2 separate regions of the Homo sapiens genome follow, and region 1 is linked to region 2. The links come from fine-mapping of genetic effects on gene expression. A gene starts in region 2. The other region holds a variant in brackets. All regions are shown on one strand. Distances are from middle to middle.

Region 1 (13,333 bases), 110 kb before region 2:
TCGGGCAGGCTGTCGCTTTTCTCCGGGCTCCAGCTTCTGCTGGTTCCCCAGGGTTCTGCCAGTTCTGACTGTCTAGTTTCTCTGTGTGACCTTGAGGGTGTGTTTCTCCAAGGCTTGAATGAGCCGGGCTTGGGGTGTGCGTGTGTGTTTGGTGAGCATTTGCGTGTTTATGCTGGGTATGTTTGTGTGCATGTTCGTGTGTCGATGTGTTGTAGGTGTTTGTGCATGTGTTTTTGCCTGCATGTGGGCGTATTTGTATGTTCAGGTGAGTGTACTTACAGCAGCGAGGATGCCATGCACCTGTGTTTGTATTGTGAGTCTGTGTAGAGTCTGGCGTGAGCGTGTGTGACAGTGAGCTTGGGAGGTGATCTGTGGGTGTGTGTTTGCCTAGTGGGAGGATTTGTGAGGGTGGATATGGGAGGCTCCCCGTTCTTACTCCTCTGCTTTCATCTTCTCCGTAACATTGATCACCATTGGACACACTGGGTATTAGTAGTTACTTCTTTGTTTATGGTTTCTCTCCTGAAAGCTAGAATGCAAACCCCATGAGGGTAGGAGTTTTACCTGTTTTGTTCATGGCTGTATCCCCACTATTACAACAGTCCCTGGCACATGATGGTGTAGCTGATGTCCAAGAACATTCACTGAATGAATGAATGAATAACTTAATCATCTCCTTCAAGAGTTCCCTTAAGTGTCACTCTTAATTAGTGTTGACCTCCACTTAAAATTTCTGCCTGCCCCAGCGGATCATGAGGTCAGGAGATTGAGACCATCCTGGCTAACACGGTGAAACCCCGTCTCTACTAAAAATACAAAAACAAAATTAGCCGGGTGTGTTGGTGGGCGCCTGTAGTCCCAGCTATTCAGGAGGCTGAGGCAGGAGAATGGCGTGAACCCGGGAGGCAGAGCTTGCAGTGAGCAGAGATCGTGCCACTGCACTCCAGCCTGGGCAACAGAGCGAGACTCCGTCTCAAAAAAAAAAAATTTCTGCCCTCCCCTCCCCACAGCTCTCTAGTTCTTCTTATGTTGTTCTCATTTTTCTTTTTTAAATTACCTTCCAGTATACCAAGTGATTTACTAATTGTTGTTTACTTTTTATTTTTATTTTCTGAGTGGGAGTTGCACTCTGTCACCTGGCCTGGAGTGCAGTGGTGCGATCTCAGCTCACTGCAACCTCCGCCACCTGGGTTCAAGCAATTCTCCTGCCTCAGCCTCCCGAGTAGCTGGGATTACAGATGCACACCACCAAGCCCAGCTAATTTTTCTATTTTAGTAGGGACAGGGTTTACCATGTTGGCCAGGCTGGTCTTGAACTCCTGACCTCAGTTGATCCACCTGCCTTAGCCTCCCAAAGTGCTGGGATTACAGGCGTGAGCCACCATGTCTAGCTTTGTTTATTTATTATGTACTATCCTAAGTTTTTAAAATTGTTAGTATCCCTGTTAGAATGAAAGCCCTCACAAAGAGTGGAACCTTTGTTCAGTTTGTCCACTGATGTCTTTCGGGTGCCTGGAACAGTGCCTGGCAGCTGGCAGGTGCTTAATTGATATTTACTGAGTGGATGGATGGGCTTCTGTGTGTCATGCGGGCATGAGTGGGCTTTTGAAGTGTTTTCTGTGAATGTGTTTATAAAGTGTGTGTGGGTGTGTGATAGTCAAGGACTGCATTTTTTTTTTTTTTTTTTTTTTTTGAGATGGGGTCTCACTCTGTCACCCAGGCTGGAGTGCAATGGTGCAATTTCTGCTCACTGCAACCTCCACCTCCCTGGGCTCAAGTCATTCTCCCACCCCAATCTCCCTATTAGCTGGAATTATAAGCGTGAGTCACCACACCTGGCTTTTTTTTGTATTTTTTGGTAGAGATGGGGCTTCGCCATGTTGCCCAGTCTGGTCCTGAGCTCCTGATGAGCTCAAGTGATCCACCCACCTTGGCCTCCCAAAGTGCTGGGATTACAGGCGTGAGCCACCATGCCCAGTCAGGACTGCATTTTTAATGATGTGGGTGACTGTGTTTGATGATGTGGGTAACTGTGTACTTTGAGGCCCGAGGGCAAGTCTCTGATAGAGCTTTCAGGTTTGGGGCATCCTGCTTGGGTATTGTCAAAGATTTGCAAACAGACCCATGAATGGCTTCCCTAGGAATGTCTAGGAATCTTTTCCTTGGTGGGCTGCAAACCTGGTGGCCACAGGCCTGAGCCCTGTCCCTGGCAGCCTCCTGGGTCCACCCCTTCCTTTGCCTGTGGGCACATCTGGGCCTCATGCTTAGGGAATTCCCTCACCCTATAGCACAGTCTGAGCCCTGGGCTGGGAGGCATCAGGAGAAGGGCAAAGGCTGTAGTCAGTGCTGGAGGACAGCCACATGAGCAGCAGCTGGCCTCAGCACCTGGACAGTCTGGGAAGAGGGGCCTTGGGGTGCCACTTGGACAGGGGGTAATCCTGGCACCAGGGATTCAGGAGGCAGTGGTCAGTTCAGAGGCATCAGGGTTTGGTGGCAGGTGGCTAAGCCCTGATGAGGGGTTGGGAAAGAGGGTCCAAGCTGGCCCTATGCTTGGGCTGTGGGGGCATCGGGGGCCCAGGCATCAAAGAGTTTATGGTGTGATGTGGGCTTGGGGGCCAACATGAAAAGCCCACTGTTTCAGTCTTCAGGGAGTGGTGGGGTCTGTGCCTCAGTCCAGTCCCATTTAATATGAAGGTGGTGGGCACAGAGCGGCTGGGAGGTGGGGTGAGGGGAGGCCACCCTGTGGATGACAGTGTCAGGACCTAGAAGGCACTCAACCAAGTGAAACTTTGGGCTGAGGCTGAAAGACACATGCAGCAAGGCCAGAGACAATATGCCCCCTTAGGCCAGCATTTAGGAAATATTCTCTAATGCGTGAGTGTGGTGGTCAGGGTCAGACAGCTGCACTCAGCTTTCACAATCTCCAGCTGTGTGACCTTGGGAGGGTTATGTAACCTCTCTGAACCTCAGTTTCCTGACAGGCACAATGCAGATACTTTAAAAAAAATTTCATAGTGAGATTGGAAGGATCAAGCTGTCATTACTACTGTTATTCTTGTTATTTAAAAAGCTGTACAGGTCCAGGAAGGAAGGACTGTCTTGACAGGAATTCAGACAAAAAAAGATCCAGGGTTTTGGCCGATCTCAAATTAGTATGAGGGTCTAATATGGATGGTGAGATCTGTGACATACAAAAGAAGGCAGTGATCCCTGAAGCCAACATGGGTTCACCAAGACCGGGCACAGCTCTTAGGTTCTTGACAGCTTAATGACTCGTGGGTAAAGAAAACGAGCCAGCATGGGTGGAGAGGAATCTGTGATTTATTGAGCACCAACTGTGTGCTGGATACTTCACACGCATGGTTTTATTTAATCCTCACAAGCTTGTGGATTAAACAAGACGTGACAATCTCCATTTTACTGATGAGAAACTGAGTCTCCGGGAAGTGACTTGCCCAAGGTGGGTGGAGCTGGGATTCAAACCTGGGTCTGTCTGACCCTTTCTGCCATATCACACTGTCTCCTAAGATGTTGGGTAGAGTCTCTCGTGACTTTTGAGGACATGAAGGATGTCTGAGAGGGCGCAAAGAGGGCTCCCATTGGGCCAAACAACAGCCATGAAATGTTCACGTAAGTGTAACCAGGTCAGTCTACAGAAGGCCTCTAGACACTGCCATGGGGCTGTCCACCCTGCTTTGATCAGTCTATGCCAAGGACCTATAAGAAGACATGGAGGATACAGACTTATAAAAGGTGGAGTGGTAGAAAGCTCCAAGGGACAGAGAAAACCTCAGCAGAATCAGGATTTAGAAAGATCTCGACAGACTGGCGTGGCAAGGTGAATTTAGCTGAGGAAATATCACAGGGAAAAAGGCTGAGGCCCATCTTGACTACAGGAAAAATTGTAGAAGGGATGGGCAGCTCATGAGAAAGATTTAGAAGCTCAAGTGCCAGTAAGTTCAGCATGAGTCAGTAGGCTACATTAATAGAAGTATGGTGTTTGGGACAAGGGAGGGGGGCCTCTCTCTAGCCTCAGTTTACTCTCTGCCCTGGGGCAGTTTGTACTGCAGGTATTTGAAGGTCATGTGCTATTTTCTGTTTTTCCAGTTCTCTCCCTTTCTTTTCAAGTTATTAGGGGAGGCAGAGTCCTTCTGGAGTTTGACCCTTGGATTCCATCCAGAGCAGCCTCCAAAATGACACCTTTGAAGGTGGGAAAGACACTGCATATTCTCTGGGTTTTTGTTTGAGGTCTGTCTTGGATTTGTTCTTTATGCCCAATTACCCTAAGTCAAGGGAGAAGAAAGTGCTGGTCTCTGAATGTTCTGGAACGGGGAGAGCTCCTGGTTCCCTAGTTCCTACTGGCCAGGTGTATCCATTCCTTTTCCAGCTGTCTCCTTCCCTTCTTAGAGCCCTTTTTCTGGTGGTCAGTGGCTTGCCAGGGCCTGGCCAGGCTGGTTCTCCTATGCTGGAGGAGGGGCAACAGGAGGGAGCCTTGCAGCTGCTCACATTGGGGCTGGATCTCTGCTTAAGCTGGGATGTCACCTGCCAAGCTGAATTCGGCACAGGAAGCTCCTGGCTGGAAGACGCGCTGTTTAATTTGGAGATTCTGTTCCACTCTGAAATGTGCTTCTCCTGGCAGCTGCAATGAAGTGAAGCTGTTGAGCTTCCCTCTCTTATGCCAGAATCACAGCCACTTTTTCCTGAGAAAGAAACAGAGCTACAGACAGTTTTACTCATTAAATACTTTTTTTCCCCTTAAATCTGTTTTTGTAATTTTTTTTTTTTTGCGTGAACGGAAAAGTAAAACGGGTGATATTGAAATAAACAAGGCATTTGTGATGGGAAGGTTAAAGCAGATTGTTGGGGGTGGGGAAGGGGGTTGGAAATGCCCCATGTGTCTGTATGCAGGCTGCTCGTAGCCTGTTGAGGATGAGAGTGAGAGAAAGTATTCATGAGGCTGCCCCTCTCCCAGCCCAGAGGAGTCAATTTCTCCAAGTGTCCTGGGCTTCAGTGAGAAAGGCAGTGGAGAAGGGAGCTCTCGTTTATTAAGGGCCCACCAAGTGCTACGCCTGTAATATGGGTGAGCTCATTCAGTCCTTATGGCAACCCTGGGTGGTAGGAGCTATTTTACAGATAAGGAAGGTTGAGGCTCAGATGACTTAAGGTCAACCCTGCAGGGCATACAGAGCTGGGATTTGAACCTCCATCTGTCTGACCTCTG[A/ATGCCG]TGCTGTTTTTGGCTATACTTTGCTACCCTGAGCAGTTGTGTATCGAGCTGGGGGATGTAAAGGGAGGAGAAGAAAGAAGATGAAGAGATACCAGCCAGCCTTAAGGAGTGGACATCCTGCCTGGTGAAACTGAACAAGACACCTACCGCATGTGAGTGAACCAAGCCCTAGTTGCTGGGCTCCGACAAACATGGCTGGTTTGGGGAAGGGTATGTAAGAGTGGGTGTGGAGGGTTTTGGCCTGATAATGAAGGTAGGCTTCTTGGAGGTAGAGGACCCTGGAAGTTGAGTGGAGTTGAGGGAACAGCCTGGCAACATCCTGGGCCAAGGCAGGCAAGGTGTGAGTATGGCTCTGGTGAGAGGAGGTAAGTCTGAGTCGGGTAGTGATGGTTGTGGTGAGAATATCCATGTTGGCAGAGGAGGATCAGGTTGGAAGATGTAGTGCAAAGAAAGAGCCCTGAGCTGGGAAGCAGGTGCCCAGTTCTTGTCCTGGCTCTGCCATTGAGTTGCTGTGTGATCTTGGGCTAGTCCTCTTCCCTCTTTGGGTGTCCAATTTTCTGTCTGTAAAATGGTAGAGTTGGATTACAGGATCCCTAGAGACCTTTGCAGGGTCCTAAGGAGAAAGAAGGTGACTATAATATCCAGAGGACCTTGAATATCAAGACTTGGCATTAGAATCATGAAATGTTAGGATTAAAAAGATCTCCAGGAATCATCTACTTAAACTATCTTCCTTTACATCCTACAGGATGAGTAGGAGTTATCAGGCAAAGGAAAGCAAAAGATGGAAGAGGGAAAAGAGGGCATTCCAGGCAGGAGACATAGTGTGAACAAAGGCATGGGTGGAGGCACGGTGCAGTGAACATTAAGCAGGTTGACATTGAAGATTAAAGACCAATGTGGCCGAGTGCAGTGGCTCACGTCTGTAATCCCAGCACTTTGGGAGGCTGAGGTGGGTGGATCACCTGAGATCAGGAGTTTGAGACCAGCCTGGCCAACATGTATTTTGTAAAAATACAAAATTTAGCTGGGTGTAGTGGCGCACACCTGTAATCCCAGCTACTTGGGAGGCTGAGGCAGAAGAATCACTTGAACCTGGGAGGCAGAGGTTGCAGTGAGCCGAGATGGCACCACTGCACTCCAGCCTGGGTGACAGAGTGAGACCCTGTCTCAAACAAAAACAAAAACAAAAACAAAACCACAAAAGACCAATGTGGGGTGTGGGAGGAGGCGAGTCATCAGTTAGGAGAGGGAGATGGGACCAGACCTCGGGAGGACCAAGGGGGTTTGACTCCATCCTTTGGGTAATGGGGACTCATTGAAGCTGTGGGAGTGACATGCTCAGAGGTACAATTTTGAAAGATGACTTTGGCAGCTTTGTTGATCATGGATTTGATAGGGGCTGGGAGCAGATACAGGCCAAGGATACGTGCTGACAAGACAGGTCAGGAAGCTGTGTGTCAGCTCAGCAGGAGGTGGTGATGGTCCCAGTCAGGGTGGCAGAGTGGGGACACTGAGGATAGCACCTGTTCACAAGGTATTTGGGAAGTGGAATAGATAGGACTTGTTGATTGATTGGCTATGGGGAGTGGAGAAGAGTGAAGATACAAGGACTCTCAGGTTCTGGCTTGGTGATATTCACTGAGATGGGACACACAGGAGGAGAGAGGGATTTTTTGGGAACAAAGATAGCTGAGTTTTAGATCTGGTGAGTTTGAGGTATCAATGGAACAGTGTGTAATGTCTCATTCATTCATTAATTATTTACTGAGCATTTACTATGTGCCAGCCATGCCTGGATACTGCTTTTCCGTAGCTGTCAGCCTAGAGGGGCATTCAGAAAGTTCTTCTATACACTGAATATTGAGCAGCTGAACTTTTACCCATTGGCCTTCTTCTGCCCTTCAGGACTTCACTGGCGTCTACCCTCCTTCAGAGATTAGAGATCAGTGATTGTGGTTCCTTGCATCATCTTTGTTTCTGGGAACATGGAGCTGTGGAGGGAATGTGGACTTTAGAAAATTATAAAGGCATGGATTTTAGCCCAAGCACCTTTTGTATGATCTCATTTGTTAAGTGGGTTTAACGACAACTTTTGTTTTTGTTTTTGTTTTTTTTTCAGATGGAGTTTCGCTCTGTCGCCCAGGCTGGAGTGCAGTGGTGCCATCTCGGCTCACCGCAACCTCCACCTCCAGGTTCAAGTGATTCTCCTGCCTCAGCCTCTCAAGTAGCTGGGATTACAGGTGTGTGCCAGCATACCCAGCTATTTTTTTTTTTTTTGTATTTTTAAAGAGACAGGATTTCATCATATTGGCCAGGCTGGTCTCAAACTCCTGGCCTCACTGATCTGCCCATCTCGGCCTCCCAAAGTGCTGGGATTACAGGCATGAGCCACCACACCTGGCCTAACAACACCTCTGTTACTGACAGTAGAGTGCTGGAGTGGGTTCCTACTGGCTAACAGAACCCACTGGAGTGGGTTCCTACTGGCAAACGTTTGGGCATCTCTTCCCAATTCTGCATGCATTGACATCCCATTGGTAGCTTGAAATTGACCATCGTGGGAGTATTTACACCACAGAAATTGGCAAATGCTACAAATCAGGACTCCTTTTTTCTTTCAAAAAGCTGGTTGGTAAGTATTTACCAGCTAACAGTAAATATTTATGGCATATAGAGTTGTGGTTTGGATGATGGACGTAGAGCACCTGGCACATGGTACCCAGATATACACATATTGCTTAGCACAGTGGGTACCTAAGTGTGACTACCTTTTCCTTTGATGTTTCCTCTCTATGGGAATACTGTTGCTTCATTTGCTCACAATAACAACCTCCCTTCCACCAGGGCCTGCTCCTCTCTTTTCTCAAACAACATGGTCCCAAGTGAAGCTGCCATCTTCTTACTCCTCTTGGCCTCCATAATGGGGTAGAGTTAAAAGGATGGGGATTTTGGAGTCTCATGAGACTAAATTTGAATCTTGGCTTTGCCTCCTACTAGCTGTGTAATGACCCTGGGCAAGAAATTTAATCACTCTGAGCCTCAATTAAGTCACCTGTAAACTGGGGATGGGCATGCCTCCCTCATTAAGTTGTTGTAAAGATGAAATGAGGTAATGGGTACATGAGGGCCTGGCATTGAGGCGGCAGTTTCAGTGAGAGCTTGACCCATGCTGGTCTCCTTCCCCTGAAAAGTCCAGTGTGGACTTGGGAAACAGCTCTGATGATGGGGTGGGGGGTGGGAGAGGGAGGAACTGGGGCTGCAGCCTTGGGAAGGATGGTTTCTGGTGGAACATGTAGGTCGAGAGAGGCTGTGGGCCATAGGACCTTCCAAATGTATTCTGAGTGCAGTGGAGGGGAACTCCCCTGGCCACAGTTCATGCTTCCAGGGCCCTCACCTGCAGATCTGCAGATAAACTCCTATCATCAGCTTGGCTCGTGCGTTTCTGGGGCGGCTGTGGCAGCCTGGGCTGCCCTGATTTACCACCCCAGCCCCAAGCAGATTAAATCACCCAGAGTCATTTGAATTTTACTTGGCCTTGTCACACAAATCTTAGAAACTGCTGTCTGGCAAGAAAACTTTCCCTGTACTTTTTGGAGGAAAACTAAGAGCTCTAGAAATTGAGGTGAAGTGGAAAAAGGAGGTGGTTCCAGGGGGGTTTCTGCATCTTCAGATCAGACCAATGTTGCAGGTTAGAGGAGGGATTGTGGTGTGTGTGTGTGTTTGTGTGTGTGTGTGTGTATGCAATTGCTGCAGAGGCCTCTGGGACAATGTTGTTTCTGGCTGTGTGACATAGGGCAAATCACTTAACCCCTCTGAGTCTCACAGGACTGTGGTGAAGGTCAAAGGGGCTAGCTTGTGGAAAGCATTTTGTAGGCTTCAATCAGTTCTGTGACTACTAATTGGAAAGATGAGACAAATGACTACATAAATAAATTATATATGGCAGTGGTTACTATGCGTCAAGCAGAGTAAGAGCTCTAGGAGCCAAATGGAGGGGCACATTGCCAGAGGTCTGGGGCTTGACTTGGGCCTTAAAGGAAGCCTAAGTCCCAGGGAAGAGAAGTGGAAGAGGCTGTAGTGCAAGTGAGGTTGTCGACGCCACCTCTGTCTCCATCAGTGTGTGTGGCTCTGAGGTGGATCCTGATTGGTTTAGCCAATTCAGATAATGCCCCCTTCTCTGACCTTGGCACATTGGCTGGTTCCAAACCAACCATACATACATTCTCCTAGTCACTGGAATTGATTCAGATTGGCCCCATCAGACAGAAACTCGGGGTTTTGGTGAGATGGCTGGGGAAGCACGTCTAATCTCTTTGTATCTGGATTTGAATGAGGAAACATGTGGGCCTAGTTTCTGGCAGGCATCTGGTGACTAGGAACACTAACCTGAGAATGTAGCCAACATATGGAGGTGGGAAGAACCTGGAAAATCACAGAAAAATGGAGTCCCAGCCCCAGTCAAACTATGCCTGATGTTTGTTGCATCTGGAGTATTACATGAACTAATCAATCTGCTTTATTAGGCCAGTTTGGATACAGGGGCTGATACGGGGGCTGATGGAGGGATCTGAGTAGGGAGCCGAGAGTCTACTTGGTGTTAGGCAGCCATGAATGAGGAGACCCTGTAGGCGGGAGTAAAGGGTGGGTGAGGGTGCGTAGTGGGGTGAGGGTGGCTGAGGTCTATAGGAAATGAGACTAGAAGAAAGTCTGGGATTGAATAATGGAATGACTCAAATGCAAGGTTAAGAATTTGGGCTTGATTTTGTAGGCAATGGGGTGTAGCTTCAGATTTGTGAGCAGAGGAAGGGAAAGGATAAGTGATGTGAACACAGTGATATTTTGGGAAGATCAACGTAAGAGTGGGATATATATATATATATATATATATATATATATATATATATATAGGATTGGAAAGAGAAATTGGGGGCTGAGACTTTAAAAATTATCATTTATGGATGCTACACATAGTTCATGTATTATCTCACTTAATCCTTAAAAGAGCCTCCCCCATCCCTCTTTTTTTTTTTTTTTTTTAAGCTGACTTTCCAAAATCTTGCGTAACTTGACTAGACCACATAATTAGCAAATGGTGGAGTCAGGATTTGAACACAGGTCATCTGACTTCAAACCCTGTATCCTTATTCACCATATTTATGGTAACACAGTTGACAAATTAGGATGGGCTAGATAAGATAGTGGCTACAGAGGTGGAGAGAATGGAACGAGAGATATTAGGTTGGTGAAGTTCTAGATGTTTTGTCATTAAAATCAGAAACCAGATCAGGATAACCATTGTTATCAACATTTAAAAAACTCTTTTCCAAAAGTGCTAGGCATTGCAATTAGATAAGAAGATGAAACAGAAAGTATAAATGTTGGGAGAGAGGAGTAAATAATCATAGTTTGCAGATAAGATGATTATTTATCTGGAAAACTCAAGACAATATTCTGTAAAACAATCAGAAAAAATAGAGTTTAGTAAAATGGCCAGTAACAAAAAAATTTACACAAACTAACAGTCTTTCTATTTATAAAATGACTATCTAGAAGGTAAAATAAAAGCTCCATCCATACTGTAAAACACAAACACAAAATACTCAGAAATAAACTTTACAAAAAAGTGTGTAGCATTACATGAAGAAAACTCTTCTGAGTTTGAATAAATATGGTATATACCTAGTTCTTGAGTAGAAAGATTTAATGCTTTAAGGATGTCAATTCTCCTAAACAAATGTGTGAAATTAAGATAATCCAATCAAGATCCCAACAGGATTAGAATTTTTTTTGACAAAATAATTATGAAGCTAATCTGGAAGAATACCAAATGAGAATAAGGAAAATTCCAAAAAAGAAAAATGATGAATATTTACTCTATCAGATATTAAAATGTTTTATAAAGGCACAATATAATTAAAATTCTTGTCTAGGAATAGACAGACAGATCACTGGGACAGACTAGAGTCTAGAAATGGGCCCAGATATTTAAGGGAATTTTTGTTTGTTTTTGGAACAGAGTATCACTTTGTTGCCCAGGCTGGAGTTCAGTGGTGTGATCTTGGCTCACTGCAGCCTTGGCTTTTCGGGCTCAAGTGATCCTCCCACCTCAGCCTTCTGATTAGCTGGGACTACAGGTGCAGGCTACCACACCCAGCTAATTTTTTGGATTTTTTTGTAGAGATAGGGTTTTACCATGTTGCCCACATTGGTCTTGAACTCCTGGGCTCAAGCGATCTGCCACCTTGGCCTCCCAGTGTGCTGGGATTATAGGCATGAGCTATTGCACCCAGCCTTAAGGTATTTTTATATGATAAAACAGCATTTTAATTGAGTTGGGAAAATATGGGCTATTTTATAAATGGCGTTGGGATAATGGGCCAGCCATAGCAACACTCCTTATTGGGGTAAGAACTCTCTGACTTGGTCTAATAAGCTCAAGCCATGAAGACCACATGGCATAAATATGAGTGAATATTTTGATCATCTTAAGGTGGGGAAGATTCTTCTAAGTATGACGTGATATTTGAAATCATAAAAGAAAAGATTGATAAATTTGACTATATGAAAATTAAACATTTAAGTACCTTAAAGAACATTATAAGAAAATTTTAAAAGAGGGGTATATACATATGTATGTGTATATATATATATATATATATATATGACAACAGTTTAATTTTATTTCTAATGTACAAAGAGCTCTTACAAATCATTAAGAAAAAGATAAATATCTCATTAGAAAAATGGGCAAAGGACATGAACAGGCAATTCACAAAGAAAATAACTACAAATGCCTGAAAAAACAAAAAGACATTTATTTCCCCCTCCCTATAATCTTAGCAATGCCAATAGAAACAAGCATCATTTGCCTTCTGTTGATCTGGCCAAACATTAAGGCTGACAAAACCCAGGCTTGATGAGGGTCTGGACTAATGTGTGGGCACGGTTGATGAGAATTTTGCTGTTGTAAGCTTTCTGAAGGACAGAGTGGCAAAATAGAAATAGCATACCCTTAATTGCAGCCATCTCATTTATTGGATTTTATTCTAAGGCAATTGTTGCAAAAATGAGCAAAGAGAATATGCACAAGGATATTTATCACAACATTGTTTATGAGAACAAAATTCTCACAACATCCTTAAATGATCATCAGTAAAGACCCAGTTAAATAAAGTATGATACATATAATGGACTACTATGAAGTAATTAAAATAATTTTGTAGAGCTCTATTTATTGACATAGAAAGATGTCTAGGACATATTGTTGAGAGAGAAAAGCAGGTGTCAGCGAGAACAGTATGTATAATACAATTCCTCGTCTATAAAATTATATACATAGATCTCTATGTGTATATATGCATAGAGATATGTCTGGAAGGCTGTTCACCAAAATGCTTGGAGTGGTTGTATCTGGGAGGTAGGATTTTTACTTTCTTTTTTGTACTTTTAAGTATTGGTTAGATTTTTTTTTATAATGAAGATATATCATGTTTTTTAATCAGAACAAAGAATAATTCTATTTGTTGTAGCATTTTGGAAATAAGGCAGATACTAAATAGGAGGAATCAGCATGTGGTGATTTAACAGATGTGGATAAGGAGTCAAGACATAAGCCAAGAATTTGCCCTTTGGTGCCCGGAAGCTTCATGCATCATGGCAAACCCAGAGCAAGAGTTGATGCTGGAGGAAGAAGGAGGCCCTGGGTTTTCAGAGCTTTGTTCTGTGGCAGTGGCTGGTGGGCAGTATGGCTGCCTCTTAGAAGGGGAGGGCTGGGGTGGGCTTTTCCCCAAGGACAGAGCTAGGGATGAAATCTCAGAGGGAGAGAGTGCATCGGCAGGTGCAGGAGAAAGCTGGAAACTGAGCCTGGAACACAGCCATGGTGACAAGACGGGTGAAGAAACAGGATGCGTGGTCAGGAAGGCGCGGGGCTACAGGAGCATGGAGTGTCTCAGGATTCCATGGGTGTGGGGGCGAATTTCTAGGGAAAGGTCAACCATATCTAATGATGCAAAGGCACGGAGGCTGGGGAAAGGGCACAGGACTTGACAAATAGGACCTTGTTGATGACCTTGGACCGAGCAGTTTCAGTGGAGGAATGAGGCTGTGCAT
Region 2 (15,704 bases):
AGACTGGACAACTGAGCAGGAGATGATTAAAAAAAATAAAAATACTAGCAGATACTTATATACCATTTACTACGAGCCAAGTATTATTCTAAATGTCTTCCATATATTAATTAAGTGAATCCTCATAACCACCCTGGGAGGTGGGTACTAGTGTCATCCCCATTTTACAGATGAGGAAACTGCAACCCCATGAGCTTGGGTAACTCATCTATGGTGATACTGCTAAGAAGTGGCAGAGCTGGGACTTGAACCCCAATATTGTGGCTTCAGGGTCGAGGCTCTTAACCATAATATGTGCATCCTGCTCTTTCTGAACCCTGTCACCAGGTCACCAGAGATAAGAGCTCATGTCCAACAGCTTCAGCTAAAAGGGAGGTATTGGCTCTGTGCTTGGAAGGTTTGGGGGGGCCTGGCCCTAGGGTTCTGGGGGTCCAGGTGATGTCAATAGACCAGCCATTCATGCAGCCTCTCTCTGTCTCTGCTCTGCTTCCATCTGTAAGCCAGCTTGTGTCTGTTCCGTGACCACAGGGGCCAGCTCCCAGAACTGGCTGCCCCACCAGACCCACAGGTTGTGGAGAAGGGCCAGCTTGGCACAGGGAGGGGGTGTCACAACCAGAAGAAGGGGGCAGAGGTGCCAGGCAGACAAAGATAACAGATGGAGACTTCGAGCTCCTGCCCCTGCAGGGGGTTTATACCTTTTAATAGCCCTCACTACAACCTAGAAGCTCCCATTTATAAATGAGGAAACGGAGGCACAAAGTAACTTGTCAAGGGTCCCACAGCTTGAAGTGGCACCAGCGGCATGCAAGCCCAGGGCTGCCTGATTCTGGACTCCATGCTGCCTGGAGCTTCTCAGACGGAGGCCCTGGGGGTCATATTGCATGGCTCACCTTGGCTTCCCCAAGACCTCAGGGCAGTTCTGTGGTTAGAGGACACAGGCCGAGAGGCACCTGGAGGGAGGGAGGCCAGGCCTCACCAGGGCCAGTGGCCAGGCTGGAGGGAATCACTGGTTGAATGGTGCTCAGGGTCCTGGAGCTGGTGGAGGTGGGTTCCCTGCCCTCCCCTGGCCCTGCATGGCCCCCAGGGCTGTGAGTCTGGGGACTGGGCACCTCCCCTGGGCCTCTGGCAGGGAGCGAGCAGTGCCTGAGGCAGGAGGCAGGCAGGCATGGCGTGGTCCCTGCCCATCTGGGGAGTGCTTGGTGGCTGGCTGGAACTGAGCAGTGGACGGCGTTTGGACTCAGCAGCGTGAGCCCAGCTCGGAGGCTGCGAGGCAGAGCCGTGAACGCCAACAGTCTGGAGGCAGGCTCCGGAGGGAGACAGGCTCGGGCCCATTCGCTGAGCTTGGTTCCCACGACAGCTCAGCAGACAGATGGACCTGGGAATCCTCACTGCCTGGCCAGGAGGGCGCACACATGAATGGAAATGCAGGCACCCCGGTGGGGAGGGACAGGCTGGAGGTTCCCAGGGAGGGCCAGGGGGGCGAGCCAAGGAGCAGGAGCTATGGCCTGGGCTAAGCGGTTAGATAAACCAGTTGGGTGTGCTGTGCTTCTTGGTTAGACTGATCCCTGGGCCTCGGCCCAGGTATAGCCCTGACCTTGACCTCAGGCTTTGCCTTGATTCCAGCCTCAATCTGAATCCTGAACTGGAACCCAGACTGAGCTGTGACTCTGGCCTCTGCTCAACTGGGCCGGGACCTTGGTCTTAGACTGAGCAGACTGAGCCCTGACCATGACCCCAGATTGAGCCCTGATCATCAAATCCATTTGCCTATGTCCTTCTCTGAAAGCAGCCCAGAGCCGACTGCCCACAATACTCACCAGTAGGGGTGGGTAAAAGGTGAGGGCCGGGCCCAGGTGGTACTGACAGCCTCTGGATGGCACAGGAGAGCAAGAGCAGAATTGACTTAGAGTGGTGGTGGGGTCGAAGGGTGGCATAACTGACCAGGAAGAGAAGACTCGCCTGCTGGGATGGAGACCAGAGGGCAGTGTCCCCTGCCCACCTTGAGCAGGTCCAAAATTCAGGCTGAGGAGGACAGAGCCCAGGTGGGTGGGCTTATGGGGTCCCAGGAGGCAGGAGGCAGGAGGCACTTGAGAATGAAGCAGGAAAGGCAGGACTGCCCGCCGGAGCCAGGGAGAGGACAGTGCGAGTGCAGTTGTGACCAGAGCTGGGGCCTGGGGAGGAACCCTCTTCCCAGGACCAGAGTCACCTGGAGCTCGGAAATCAGCAGCACCTAAGAAAGACAGGCAGGCAGAGGCCCAGCAAGGAGATGAACGCAGATCATTTGGGAATGAGCCAGCCAGGAATGACTTTGGTTAGGGGCTGGTGGTGATGATGGAAGGTGTGGAGTATTAGAGGGCACTCCCTGTTCTTGGTACTTCCAACTATGATCTGATCTAGTCCTCCTAACAGTTTAGTGAGATCTTGCAGCAGCGGCCCTGGATGCCCCAGTCTCCAACTTCCCCTGGGCACTCACTGCCCCATACCTGCCATGACTCTTCCTTAGGGTTCCTCTGGCTGCCAGAGTGTGCTTCCCTGGCACTGGAAGTGTATGTGTAGGGGGGTAGGTGTTAGGGCCCCTGGGAACAGTCAGCAATGGACTGGGGTGGAAGCATAAAGAGTCCAGCTTCCTCTCCTTCAAAGGAGACAGCTCTGAGGTCAGTTCTACGCTATGTCCTAGACCAGAGGCTGGGGAAGTTTGTTGGCAAAGGGCCAGAGAGTCAATATTTTAGGCTTGGAGGACCATATGGTGTCTGTTGCAACCATTTAACTCTGTCATTGTGGCAGAAAATCAGCCACAGATAATACAGACATGAGTGGGCATGGCTGTGTTCCAATAAAACTTTATTTACAAATTCAGGAGGCAGGCCTGATTTGGCCTGTGGGCTGTAGTTTGCCAACCCTTGAGATGGCCCCAGTAGGCCTGGGTCCAGCGTGGTCACCAGCTCATTCACGCGCCTTTCATTGCTCTCCTCCCCTTCCCAGTCTCACTTCTCCACTCCCTACTGGAACTTCCAGGATCTCTTCTTAAATAAATGACTTGATCTTGAATTCTTGTCTCTAGGTCTGCTTCAGGGGACCCCCAATCTAAGACAGATATCCCCAATTTCACATGAAGAGACTGAGGCAGCTGGAGGCAAAGCAGCTTGTACAAGACCCCACAAGAAGAGGAGGAGTTGCTTTCTTGAACTGCTGTGGTTTTACCCACAGTCACCGGACCGTGCTGCCGCCCTGGTGGGAGGATGTGTCTGCCTGCACAGGTTGAACAATCTCAAGACACCTTGCTGGAATTGGCAGAACATTGAGCTCATTCGGTCACTACCAGGGCTATCAGGCACAGAGGATGAGGCAGTCCTGCCCTGCCCTCTAGAACCGAAAGTCTGGACAGGGAGTGGCAGTTAAATGTGGGGCAGAATGAGATCAATGTCTCCAAGGGGTAACCCTGTCATCCTCTCCCTTGGATCTTCTCTGGGAGAGCTGCAGGACATGAGCGATCACTCTTTCTTTTCAGATGGGTAAACTGAGGCTCAGAGAGGAGATGGACTTGCCCCAGGCCACACGGCTTATACCTGGCAGAACTGAGTCTGTCCCAGGGCTCTTTGAGCACCTGGGGATGCAGAAGCTGGCGGGGTGGGAGGTGGCGGGGACTGTGGAAGGCTTCGTGGCTCTCATGGGCACTCCAGCTCACTGTCTTTACTGCCACAGCCACTGCTTCTACATTTGCTATCTCATTGGATCATGGCGCCTTGAACAAAAGTGTCCTTACTCATTATCTAATTGAACTCCCATTTTACAGGTGGGAAAATTAAGACCCAGAGAAGGAACTTCCCAGAGAGCTATCCAGTGAGCCAAGTCAGAGTTAGGAGCAGGAGCCTCAAATTCCCAGGAAAGCAGCACGGTCCTCGAGTTCCCCCAAAAGCCAGACGGCATCTTTGACACCTGACTCCCAGGGGCCAGTCCTGGAGAGGACACCTGGCCTGGAGCCAACCTTCCTCTCCTCGCTGCCAAAGCTCTGCTCTCTGGGTTCTGGCACTGTCTGAAAATTCCTCCGTTGGTCTGCTCTCGGCAGAGCATAGATTATCACTCTTGTGCTAATTATTTTTATGATTAAAAGATGATAAATTATTAAACAAAGTCTGAAAAATGTGCCAAGATCTGCTCTGAGGCTGGGCCTGAGAAGTTGCCCCCTTGGCGTCCACGTTAATTAATAAATGAGACTCTCCGTGGAGAGGAGCCACAGCTGGTATATCTGGCAGCCAGGCAGGAGCTGGCGGAGGCCAGATGCCATGCAGGTGGGGAGGAAGGGACTCCCTGGGAGTGCCCAGCCTGGGATTTGGTAACAGAGTCCCCTCCCTCTCTGCTCCCAGCCTAGGACTCAGCGGAGAGCCCCTTGGTACCATCCGAACATCTGGCCTCTGGAAGAGGCCTAGGATTTCAAGCTGAGAAGCTCCAGCTGATACTTTAATGCTGTTCCCCTCTCCAAATGCAGACTTGGGAGCACCCCAAGTGTCTAAAGGAAGGCCGGAGACCAGGATTCAAATCTCTGCGAGCCCATTTCTCCTTGGGTAACTTTTGGGTAGGTCACTCAATGAGACGCCAAGCCTCAGTTTCCTCATCTGTAAAATGGGTAGAAATGACATCTATTTTTGCAAGGGTATTGAGAGTGTTAAATAGGATAATGTCTATCAAGAGCACTCAGCTCCCAGCAGATGGTCAAAAAATGTTAGTTGGGCTGACTTGAAGCTTGGGTTTTTTGCTGTGCTGCCATAACTAGCTGTGAAACATTGGTCAGGCAGATTTACCTTTCTGAGCCTCAGTTTCTTTATCTGTAAAATGGGAATGAGAACTCCCAAATCTTAGGATCAAAGGGAAAACTATATGTGAAGTGTCTAACAAAGAGTAAGTACTCAATTAATGGTGGCTATTTTATCATAATTGTTTATTACAGCGCCAACACACTGAAGTTTCAACAAGTGGGTATTCCTCCTTCACCATGGGCACTTCTTCCTGCATCCTTTGCTGGTTCTCCTCCCTCCCCACCTTACTCCTTGCAGCGCCCTGGGCTCAGGCCTCCATGTCTTTCTTCCTTACACTCTCTCCCTTGTGAGCTCATCCATCTGTATGCTGATGGCTTCCACATTTCTAATGCTAGCCTCGACCCTCTTCCCAGAACTCCAGACTCCTACAAGCAGTTGCCCATTCAAACTCTCCCCTTGGGTGTTTAATAGATATATCAGATCTAATATGTCTAATAATGCATCTCAAATGGAATTCCTCATCTTCCCCTCTGCAAACCTGTTCCCCACCGCCCCTACAGTCTTCCCCACTTGGTTAATGATGGCTCCATCCTTCTGGTGACACCTTGGAGTCATCCTTGATTCTGCTATTTCTTTCACTTCAAATACCTAAACCATCAGGAAACCCGGACAGCTCCACCTTCCACCTCTGTTAGAACCTCAGCACCTAGCCATCCCCCATCACCTCCCCCACTCCCACCACCCTAGCATAAGGCACCATCACATCTTACCTGGACTCTTGCAGTAGCCTACTAATTGCTGTCCCTGCTGCGGTACTTGACCCCTATAGTAATGCTCTACATAGCTGCCAGGATGATCCCTTTAAAACACAAACACTAGACCCAGTCACACCTGCTTATAATCCTCCAAGAGGCAAAGTCTTTGCCAAGGCCACAAGGCCCTGTACTACCTGAACCTCCCCGCTTGCTAAGACCTCCCTCTCTTACTCTGTGCCAGCCACGCCTACCTTGGTGCTTTCCGTGAACACACCAGGGGCACACTCCCACCTTGGATCTTCATACTGGCTGTTCACTCTTCTCATTCCTCACCTCCCTCAGACCTCTGCTCAGAGGTCACCTTTGCTGTGAGGCTTACCTTGACTGTCCCATTTAAAAGTGCACCCCGACATTCTGCATGGTGGCTTCCCTCTTCCATTGTGCATGTCCTCTTCTTACATACTGGAGTTTCTTGAGCCTTGTGTTTGCTGTCTTCTCCCTCCAGCATTATCCGTTTTGTGCCCTGCAGCATTCCCACAGCAACCAGCACAGCCCTTGTGTGGTGGAGGTGCCGGGCATACTGAGATGCATCTGTCAGCATCTGCCTCCTGGTACCTTGGGCCTGCATGTCTGGCAGGCAGGTAGAAGAACACGCTGGCCATTTCAATGTTAAGACAAAGAGGTAGAGAAGGCTGGATGAAGGAGGTGATGACTGAACCATATCCTGAGGCAGCTGGGGTTTCCAGGAAGAGGACAGAGAGAAGGACATTCAGGTGGAGGAGCCAGCAGGTGCGAAGGCTCGGCAGCTCAGAAGCATGCTCTGAGAATGGCAGGTTGTCAATGGCAACCCGGGAAGGGGATGGGGGAGATAAGCTGGAGAGGAGGCAGGTGCCTGGGGTGGGGTGCAGAGGGAGGCCAGCTCAGATCTCCTGATTCTGCCTGGTCCTCCACCCTCTGCATAAGCAGATGGGGCACATGCCCACCCTCGTGATTTCCCAAAGGATACACAGTAGTTTAATTGCCAGAAACAGGATATTAGCAAAATAACCATATTTCATTGTGTCTGGGATGCACAACTATTTTCTACACCACTCAGAAACACTGCCGGCTAATGTGTGCCATGGCATGAAGACCCATGTGAAAGCATGTGCATCTTTCCAGTTGTGGCTTATATGGTAATAGGTAGTATTGCCTAGCACTGTAAAAGGACTTCAGATATATTATCTCACTGCATTCTTGCACCAACAATGGGTACCTATGAGACAAATAAATTAGTTCCCCATTTTACAGATGTGACAACCAGTGCACAGAGAGATTAACTAACTTGCCGTCCAGTGGGCATGTGGTGGAGCCCAGGGTGAAACCCAGGCAGTCTCTAAAGCATTGCCTTCCAACATGCAATGGAGTGTGAAATGCGGAAGCCATGGGGAAGCACAGGAAATCGGCCATGTAAGATAGGAAGCAATGGTTCGATTTATTCAGTGGTGACGTCCACCACAGCTGCATTCCAGTAATCTGCACCCCTCATCCCAACATCCTCACCCTGCTCTGCCTGTGTTGGACAACTCGTCTTCTTGACCGGAGGTGATCTCCCACAGTGAGGTAGCCCTACCCTTTTGTTTCAGCTCTTGGAAAACCCCAAACCTCAAGGCCATACACTCCTTGTGGCCAAGTGAGCATCTTGGCAACTTCCCGGCTTTTCCAAAGAGAACTAACTCCTGCTGGGGGCCCCCCAAGTCACCCCTCATGGCCCTTACTTCTAGTGCTCTGGAAATGGCTGAAACCAATGGATTAACTTGCTTTCCCTATTAAATATTTACATAAACACGCTCGGGAAGGTGTGTGTAAGTTATCAATAATGCAAGGCCAGCCTAGGCTCGGTGAGAGCTAAGAGACCCAAATTGTATCATCATAATCCATTATTCACATATAATGCGTCTATTCTCCTCCATTAGCGCAGGCAGGAAATGCCCCTGAGTGCCGGGCAGGGCTTTGGAAAGCGCAATAAATGGCGGACAGACACATGGCGGGAGGGCGGCAGCTGTAGTTAAACAAGTGTAAATTAGCGCCCAGCCTCGCTCCCTGCCTGCAGCCAGAGCGGCGGGCACAGGCCTGGCAGGGAGGGGTTACAGGATGTGGGGAACTCGCTATCAATCTAGACAGCCCTCATGGCCTCCCTGGAAACCCTTCCGGAGGAGCCCTCCAGCTGGCCGCGTGGGAGACCACGCCTCAGAGAGCACAGGCTTCTGCTCTGCAGGCCTTGGCTGGAATCTCAGCTGCACCACTGAGTGGTGACCTGGGGCGAGAGGGTGGAGGGGGCTGCTGCGCAAGCTGCCCCCACACTGAGCTCCGAGCCCCATCTGTAATACAGGGATGAGAATCACCGTCTCACAAGGTTGTTGCGTGAAGGAAATAAAATGAGAAAGGAGAAGTTCCCAGCATACGGCACACGGGAGGCCCTTAGAGAATGAAAGAACACTCCTCTCCCTCCTCCCGCTAGGCGGTTTCAGACTTAGGAATAAAACGGGAGAAGCTTTGCACCGTACCCAAATGGATGTGGTGCAAAGGCAATGCGAGGTAAAGACAGAAGTGGCTTTATGTTGTCCTCTCGTCAGCTTTGCTGTCCCTGCAGGAGGCTCCTCTCCTCTGGACCCCACCCGAGTGCCCGGTGCTGCGGTCCGTCTCCTGGGCTCAGCAAGCACACTCACCATCGCCACCCCGTCTCCAGGACTTCTTCAGCCCTTAGTCCGTCCACACCCTCTTCTCAGCACTACCGTATTCCCCTGGGAGGCAGGTCCTGCACAGAGACGAGCACATCTGCTGTTGAAACGACCCCAGACCAAACGAAAGTTTTTGATTACCCGTGAACTGGAAGGTGGACTTTTGGTATAAAGAGCACCAGACTGGGAGTTGGGAGAGCTGAGTTCTTATCTCTGTCACCGCTGATGCTCTGTGGTTTGCGGAGAGTCCCATGGCCTCTGGACCTCAGTCTGCCTACCTGTAAGAGTAAGGGAATTAATCAAATGATTTGATGATCACGCATGACTTAGTGAATGTGAAGTGCTAGGTGTGTCTCAGGACCCTTCCTGGCTCCAGAACCCTCAGGATCAGAGGCATCATGAGATTCTAGAATCAATATTCTGGTTCAAGTCATTGCTTTGTCTTGTCTCCACAGCTACAGCTGGATTTTTTCTAGCACCGAAGCTGTGTCGTGGTACAGAGACCCAGTGCCCTGGTGTCAGGTGGATGGGCATGAGCTTGATTCACCTTTTACAGAGGAATCACATTAGCAGCCCCTCCTTACCCCTCCCCTCCCACTGTAAGGGGTCATGAGCCCAATGCCTAAGGGCATGGCAGTGATGGCTGTTCAGTGGAGGCCACAAAATAAAATGTGAATTTGGAAAGGCAGGGAGCAGATGACCAGGTTTTGTACTTTTCGGACAATGGTGTCCACATGTGGGCGGTTTGTCTGGGCCAGACCAGTTCTTGGCTCTGATGCCACCTCCTCAGAGAGGCCCTCCCTGCCCTATCTAAGAGCCGCCCCACTACTCTCTTTCCCCCATCCATTTTATTTTTCTTCCCATCACTACCTGACATTTTATTGTGTACCTACTAGTTTTCTTGCTCATTGTGTGTTTCCTCGACTGGAATGTTGGCTCCATAAGGACAGGTATCTTGTCCGTCTTGTTCTCTGCTGTTCCCCTGAGGCCTGGCCCCTAGTAGAAATTCGATACGTACTGAATGAATGAATGATTGTAGATTCAAATTTAGCACACATATATTGAGCACCTACTCTAGGCCCATCACTGTGCAGGTGCTTTTACATATGTTACACATTTAATCGGCTTAACAATGACATCTATTCATATATATTAAGACCAGTGGGCACTAACATTAAATTTCAATTAAGTGAGCCTGGTAGGAATGCTTCACATCTCCTCCCCTGCTTCATGTGTGCCAGGGGGCTAATCATGATTGAAAGGCTGAAGCAGTTGAATGATGTTGTGTTCCTATGTCCTGATGCCTTCTCCCAGGCTTTCCTTTTTTTTTTTTTTTTTGAGATGGAGTCTCTCTCTGTCGCCCAGGCTGGAGTGCAATGGTATGATCTTGGCTCATCGCAACCTCCGCTTCCTGGGTTCAAGCGATTCTCCTGCCTCAGCCTCCTGAGTAGCTGGGATTATAGGCATGCGGCACCACACCAGGCTAATTTTGTATTTTTAGTAGAGACGGGGTTTCTCCATGTTGGTCAGGCTGATCTCAAACTTCCGACCTGCTTCGGTGATCTGCCTGCTTTGGTCTCCCAAAGTCCTGGGATTACAGGCATGAACCACCGCACCCAGCCTAAACTTTCCTTCTTGTCCTTCCTTCAGTTCAGCTCATCTGCTCTCAAACTCAAGGGTGTTTAGGTAAAAATGACTGTACTAGGTTATATACAAAGAAAGCCAGGGAGCCGATTTCAAGGAATTGAAGAGAAATTTGAACTCTATGCAACTTTTGCCTGATGTACCAATTTTGGAATCAAATGCTCATATGCTATATAAGATTACTGTACTAGCTGCGTGGCTTTGGGCAAGTTACTAACCCTCCTTGAGCCTCAGCTTCCTTATCTGTATATGAAGATATTAATAGCTACCTTACAGAGTATATAAGATCTGCATATGATCTGTATATGATAAGCAATAGGTGGGTTTGAATCCTACTTTCAGCGCTAACTAGCCATGTGACCTTAGACAAGTTTACGTAATCCTTCTGTTCCTCAGTTTCCTCATCTGTTACATGGGTGATATTAATAGGGTGTACCTTTTGATTGGGCTGGACCCTGTTTGCATTCTGCCCTGAAGGAGAGCGGGGCTGTGGGTCAAAGCTGCCCTAATTATAGGTGCAGCATCCGGAGCAAGGTGTTGCTTGGCTCTGCACTGCTGGCAGGTGTGGAAGTCCTTGCCCCATGGGTGAATTCCAGCGCAGTTACTGCCTGTGGGGCAGTAGTTGGCAGGTGGCAAAAGAAAAACTTTAAGAGAACACAGATGGTCACACTTGACAAAAAATGTTCTAGCAACCTCACCTACTGAAATCTCCAAATGTTCTCCAGTCCTGGGTACTTTAAACATACACTGGCCCTAATCAGTCAGCATTATTATAGTCCTTCGTTCATTTAACAAATAGGTATTGAGTGCTATTATGTGACAGGCACTGTACTAGGGAGTGAGAAAACAAGTCAGGCACAGTCTTCATCCTCATGGAGCATGCAATTTGGTGGCCATAGTGATAAAAAAAAAATAACAAGAATAATAAGAAGATGGCATCCATTTATAACATGCCCAGAGCCTGGGCTATGTGCTTTCATATAGCACCTTATTTAATCCTCACAACATTCCTATGAGGCTCATCTTAATATCCTCATTTTATAAATGAGGTACCTAAAGCCCAGAGAGGTGATGCGACTTCTGCAAGGTCCCAGAATTAGCAAGTGGTAGTCGAGACACTGGAATCCAGATCCATCTATTTCCACAGTGTTACTGTCACCTTTTCCTCTGAAGTAGCTTCCAAAAAGGGAGAGTCTCCTGGGCTACCTGGGACCTTCCAGAGGAAGGAAGGGCCTGGTGAGGACAGGAGAAAACAGTTGATCCTGAAATCCCTGCTCAGTGCTGAAGTGTGGAGACTGTCCTGCCGTAGATTGCAGGAACCCTATATGGGGCGAGCAGTAATAAGTCCCAGCTCAGTGTGCGGGTGGAGATGCCCGTGAGGAAGGGCCAGCCACAGGCTTGCTTGGGCAGTGGCCCAAGCTGGTGGTGTGACATCTTTACTGTCTGATTATTTATAGAGTCCCTGGGACAGCAGGCATCCAAGGCAGCTCAGAGGTTATGGGCTTGGGGACCAGGAGAAATAAATAGCCTTCAAAAACCCCAGCCTGGTGGGGGAAGATATGGAGCCAGGATGAGATGTCTGCCCCGCAGTCTGGTGGGGGCTATATGAGGAGAGGAAGGACTGGGGTCCCTGGAGCCTGCAGGGACCATGCTGGGGGACAGCTGGGGGACAGGCCAGACATATCTCTCCCTTGGCCACTGGGCTGGGGGAGACCTGAGAGCCTCAGCCCTGTGATGGAGGCAGTGATCTCACTGGGGAGGGCCTGGGGCCTGGGGCCTCGGACTCAGGTCATCATGCTAGCCTCTTGAGAGTGGCAAGGAGTCCAGAGCAGGGGCAGGAGCCTCAGGCTGTTGATTCTGCAGGAGGTCACTGTTCTATCAGAGTTCTATCAGAGAAGCAGAACGTGTGTGATCCGAGGGCTTTATGCTCGGGGCAAGGCTTTTCCTGATCATGGGAGCTGCTAGGCAGCGGTGTCAGCCTGTATTCACGTGTCTGCTCCAGACCTGGAGTCAGCAGGGCTGGCGGTCAGCAAGAGAAGATGGACAGGAAGAGGAAGTGAGCAAGGACAAGGCAGAACCCAAAAGAATGGCCTGAACACAAAAGGAGGAGCGTCACCAGTTGAGGGCTTGCTGGGATGGCATCTGCTTCTCACTGGCACCTGGGTGGCCTCCCACTGCCTCTAAGCCTCCAACTGATGATATGGGTGATCTGCAGAAGAACTAGCCCGCTTCACCACAAAGCTGCACACAAGCCAGGCCCCGAGTTTGGAGAAGCTGAAAGAGGAGATCGATCTGGGGTTGCCACCCCAAGATCGCAAGCTAACAAGGTGAGCCAGCAGGTGGGCTGCACACGCATGAGCTGAGAATCACCCAAACCCACATAGACCTTGAGTGCAAATGAAGCTGCTGCTCCACTTCTGCCTTCCAAATCTCACACAAATTTCTCTTGTGGCCACCCCTAACCCAGAACTGTGCAGGAAATTCTGGGACATGTAGTTCCAGCTTTGCTAAGTTGACACAGGACAAAGCGTGCACATTCACTGTGTGACTTTGACCAAGTCCTTGACCCTCTCTGAGCCTCAGTTTCACCATCAGTAAAATGTGGGATGGACTCCTCAGTGGTTCCTCTTTTAATGTAAAAAACAAAAACAACAAACAAACAACAACAACACAACCCCAAACCCCAAAACTACAAAAACAAAACAAAAAAGAGGCGGAGACATGGATTTCCTCATCTCTCCTTTGTGTGCAAATGAAAGCGAGGTCTCCTCTAAATAAACCTGCAAATCCCCAGGAGGCTGAGGCCCCAGGTGGGAAGCACCTGGGATAGATCATTTGCAGATCCCTCCTCCTTCGGACAGATAGAATACAAGGCTGAACTTAAGGGCAAGACCTGAGCTCTAGCATTGCTGCTGGATGACAAAGCAAGGTGGTAAGCCTCTCTGAGCCCAGCTTCTTTCCCTCTGTGATAAGAACAATTCTTTTACCTTTCAGGGGTCCATCACATAGATGTCAGATGCTGGGGTAGGGCTCAGAGTGTATAACAGGCTTCTTAGATGGTGACTTAAGATCAGCTTTGTGGAAACCACTGTGCTGTCTGAGGACAGGGAGACAGTGAATTCTAGGACTCCTCCTCAGTGGAGCTCTCTGGACTGTGGGGAGACCATTAACTAATGGTATGGAAACCATTTAAACAAAAGACTGTGGGGCTTCAGGGGAGAGGGAGACAGATTCTGCCTGAGAAGGCTTGTTGGGGAGAGAGTATTTGAACTGGGCCTTGATGAATGGATATAGCGGTGGTTAGCCCAAATGGAGGGAAAGGGTGGTTTAGGAAGAGGGAAGGGCTGGGCAAAGCCTGCAGTTGGGTGCATGCAGCGTGTATCTGGGGACTGGCAAGGACTGTGGTGTCGTGGAACAGAGAATGTGCAGGCAGGAAGAGGAAGGGTAGGGTGGAGAAGGAGCTGAGGATTAGCTTGTAGAGTCTTGGGTGCAAGCTAAAGAGTTCATCCCAGCATTAGCCAGTGCAAGAGGCTCAAGTGTGCAACACTAGAGTCGCCCCAAATGGGACACCAGGGGTCCCCACATCTTCCAGGCCTTTGGGGTAATTCCTTCACATTTGAAAGAGGTAACTCAAGCCCTTTCCACACAGTGGAAGCCCCTAAGTATTCTCAAGGGAGGCTTCCCATCCTTTTCTCAGTCTTCACTGCAGCTGGCTGCCCAGCTCCCTTCTGGATCCTGTAGCACCTGTCCTCACTTGCTGATCTCTTCACTCCAAGCTGGACCCTACCTGATTTCCTCTGCTCGGGGAGTCCACTGGTCCAGGGATGTTGGGTTGAGTAGACTTTTATCAATGGTTTATAGGACAGTGGTGGGGCATTCAGTACCCTCCAGCAGACTCGTGCCATGGGATGAGTATTTATATCACGGAAATCAGCAAATGCTGCACATCAAGGTCTTTCAGCCCCTTCCCTAGAGTTGGTTCTTCAACCCCCACCAGAACACCATTGATTATGCGCAGTTCAAATCACATTTCTTAAGTGAAGATCCTATATCCGGGCCCTATATAAAAACCCCTCAGCCAAAACCCATGCTGGGGAAGTTCCTGCTGTTGGAATTCTTTCATAGGACCCTAAGTTTTCTGCCATATTGCTGGTATTCTCTTTCCATAAACTCCCCACACATCCATTTCTCCCAGATCTTTCAGGAAACTCCACATTCTACACACAATTCAACCCTCTCTTAGTTTTGCCGTCTCTTTCCAGACCACTTCCTAGAGTGGACACTTTATATTTACACCCTCAGGGGCTCGCCAAGTTATTTTTTTTTCTATAGGAAGGAAGTTGCAGATAGGAGAGCTTTAAACAGATTTGTTTTCCCTTCCGCTATGCGAGTCAGCTAAGTTGGATTCAAAAGGTGGTTCTGCAGATACTAAAAGTGATAATTGGGATGCCTGAAACAACGTGGAAAACACTTGTAGGTCACATGCTCAGATCTGCACTCTCACTTCTGGGAATCAATTCTACAGAAACATTTGCACAGATGTATGTATAGGGATGTATGGTGGCACGGTGTGTGATAAACATTGGAAATATTCTAATCGCCTGGCAATGAGGGATAAGTGAAATAAGCAATGGAATGTATAAAGTAGACCAAAAGGTAGAAGTGGGTCTCTGTATATACTGACATGAAATATTTTCACAACATTTTTACAGAAAAAAGTTGCAAAACATAATTTTTTTTTTTTTTGGTAAAAATGTCTTAAAGTATACATATATGTGTGTGTGTGTGTGTGTGTGTGTTTATAGATACAGAAAAATGTCTGGAGGATGAGCCTTAAACTGTTAATAGTGGCAATCTTAAGGAATGGGTGTCTATTGGGGAGGGGCAATGTTCCCTTTTTTATATCATATATTTCTGCATAGTTTGCATTTGTTACCATAAGCATATATTGCTTATGTAATGTTTTTAAAACCAATGATTTTTACAAAGAGAAAATGCTTCAAACACAATGCCAAATATAGATGGTAGGATGCAAAATTGCTTACATATGGTGGTTACAACTCTACAGAAACTCGCGTCTGCGTGGACAGGAATGGAATGAGGAGCATCCCACAAGAAGTGACTGGTGGTTAGGGCGGGGTCCGGGGAGAATTCTTTTTCCTCTTTCAGAAGGCTGGGTAGGGCTGAGATCTGGGACATCTCAAATTCCTCCCAGCACCTTCCTTCATTCCACTCCTGGCCCATGTTCCCGTCACTTACAAGTGGCAGTGGGTATCAACTATTCAATTATTTTTAAATAGTCGAGTGTAGGTCTGGATTGAATAAATCACATTGATGCCAATTTCCAGGGAAGTCCTTTCATATTTTATGATTCACTCCCCACCGTTCCCCCTTTCCTTCCTTGTGCTCCTCCTAATGAACCAGGAGACTGTGCATACTGTTCAGATGTCCCCACTGCTAACCCTCAAATGGAAATGCAGCAGCTGAAAACATCGTGGTTCTGGGTTTTTTTTTTTTTTTTCCTTTTCCTCCTCACAGTCCTGGGAAATTGATATGCAGGCAGGATTATGTTTTGTTTAAAGCTCAGTCCTGGCATCTGAAAGAATACATTACCCAAATTGGTGCATGTGGTTGAAATTCTGCAAAACTCAGTTATGTCACAAGTGGCTTGCCAATGAGGGGTCCAGCCGGGTCTCAGGCAGCATAAATGCCCTGTATCAGAGAGAGTGTAACAGTGGAAAACCATCCACTGAGGAATATTCCTGAAGTCAATAATTTATCTGCTGCTGGTGGAAGGCAGGCCTACCAGGCACCTCTGCCACCGCCATGAT

Which allele goes with the higher level. Positions count from the first base shown, and alleles are read on the strand shown. Sizes are in standard deviations (SD) of each study's normalised expression.
As copies of ATGCCG replace A in region 1, the expression in sun-exposed skin of the gene that starts at base 8,558 in region 2 goes up (small effect, 0.21 SD a copy in GTEx).

The links.
Region 1: its variant is fine-mapped to the expression of LINC01343 in sun-exposed skin (GTEx, PIP 0.99). The same link has a PIP of 0.9 or more in unexposed skin.

The regions. Positions count from the first base shown.
Region 1 is chr1:38,098,289-38,111,621 of GRCh38, forward strand. MIR3659HG (MIR3659 host gene) reads left to right here. Exons shown (of 5, transcript NR_168386.1): 2 at 4,129-4,208; 3 at 5,258-5,373; 4 at 7,344-7,464. Among named protein-coding and RNA genes, the nearest start is that of MIR3659, 16 kb to the left of the region's middle. The variant A/ATGCCG (reference allele first, on the strand shown) is at 5,222.
Region 2 is chr1:38,206,210-38,221,913 of GRCh38, forward strand. It overlaps LINC01343 (long intergenic non-protein coding RNA 1343), which reads right to left and starts at 8,558. Exons shown (of 4, transcript NR_038928.1): 1 at 8,508-8,558; 2 at 5,889-6,242; 3 at 5,525-5,613; 4 at 2,825-4,613. It overlaps LOC105378654 (a long non-coding RNA gene), which reads left to right. Exons shown (of 7, transcript XR_001737987.2): 5 at 3,062-4,573; 6 at 6,039-6,298; 7 at 6,800-13,031.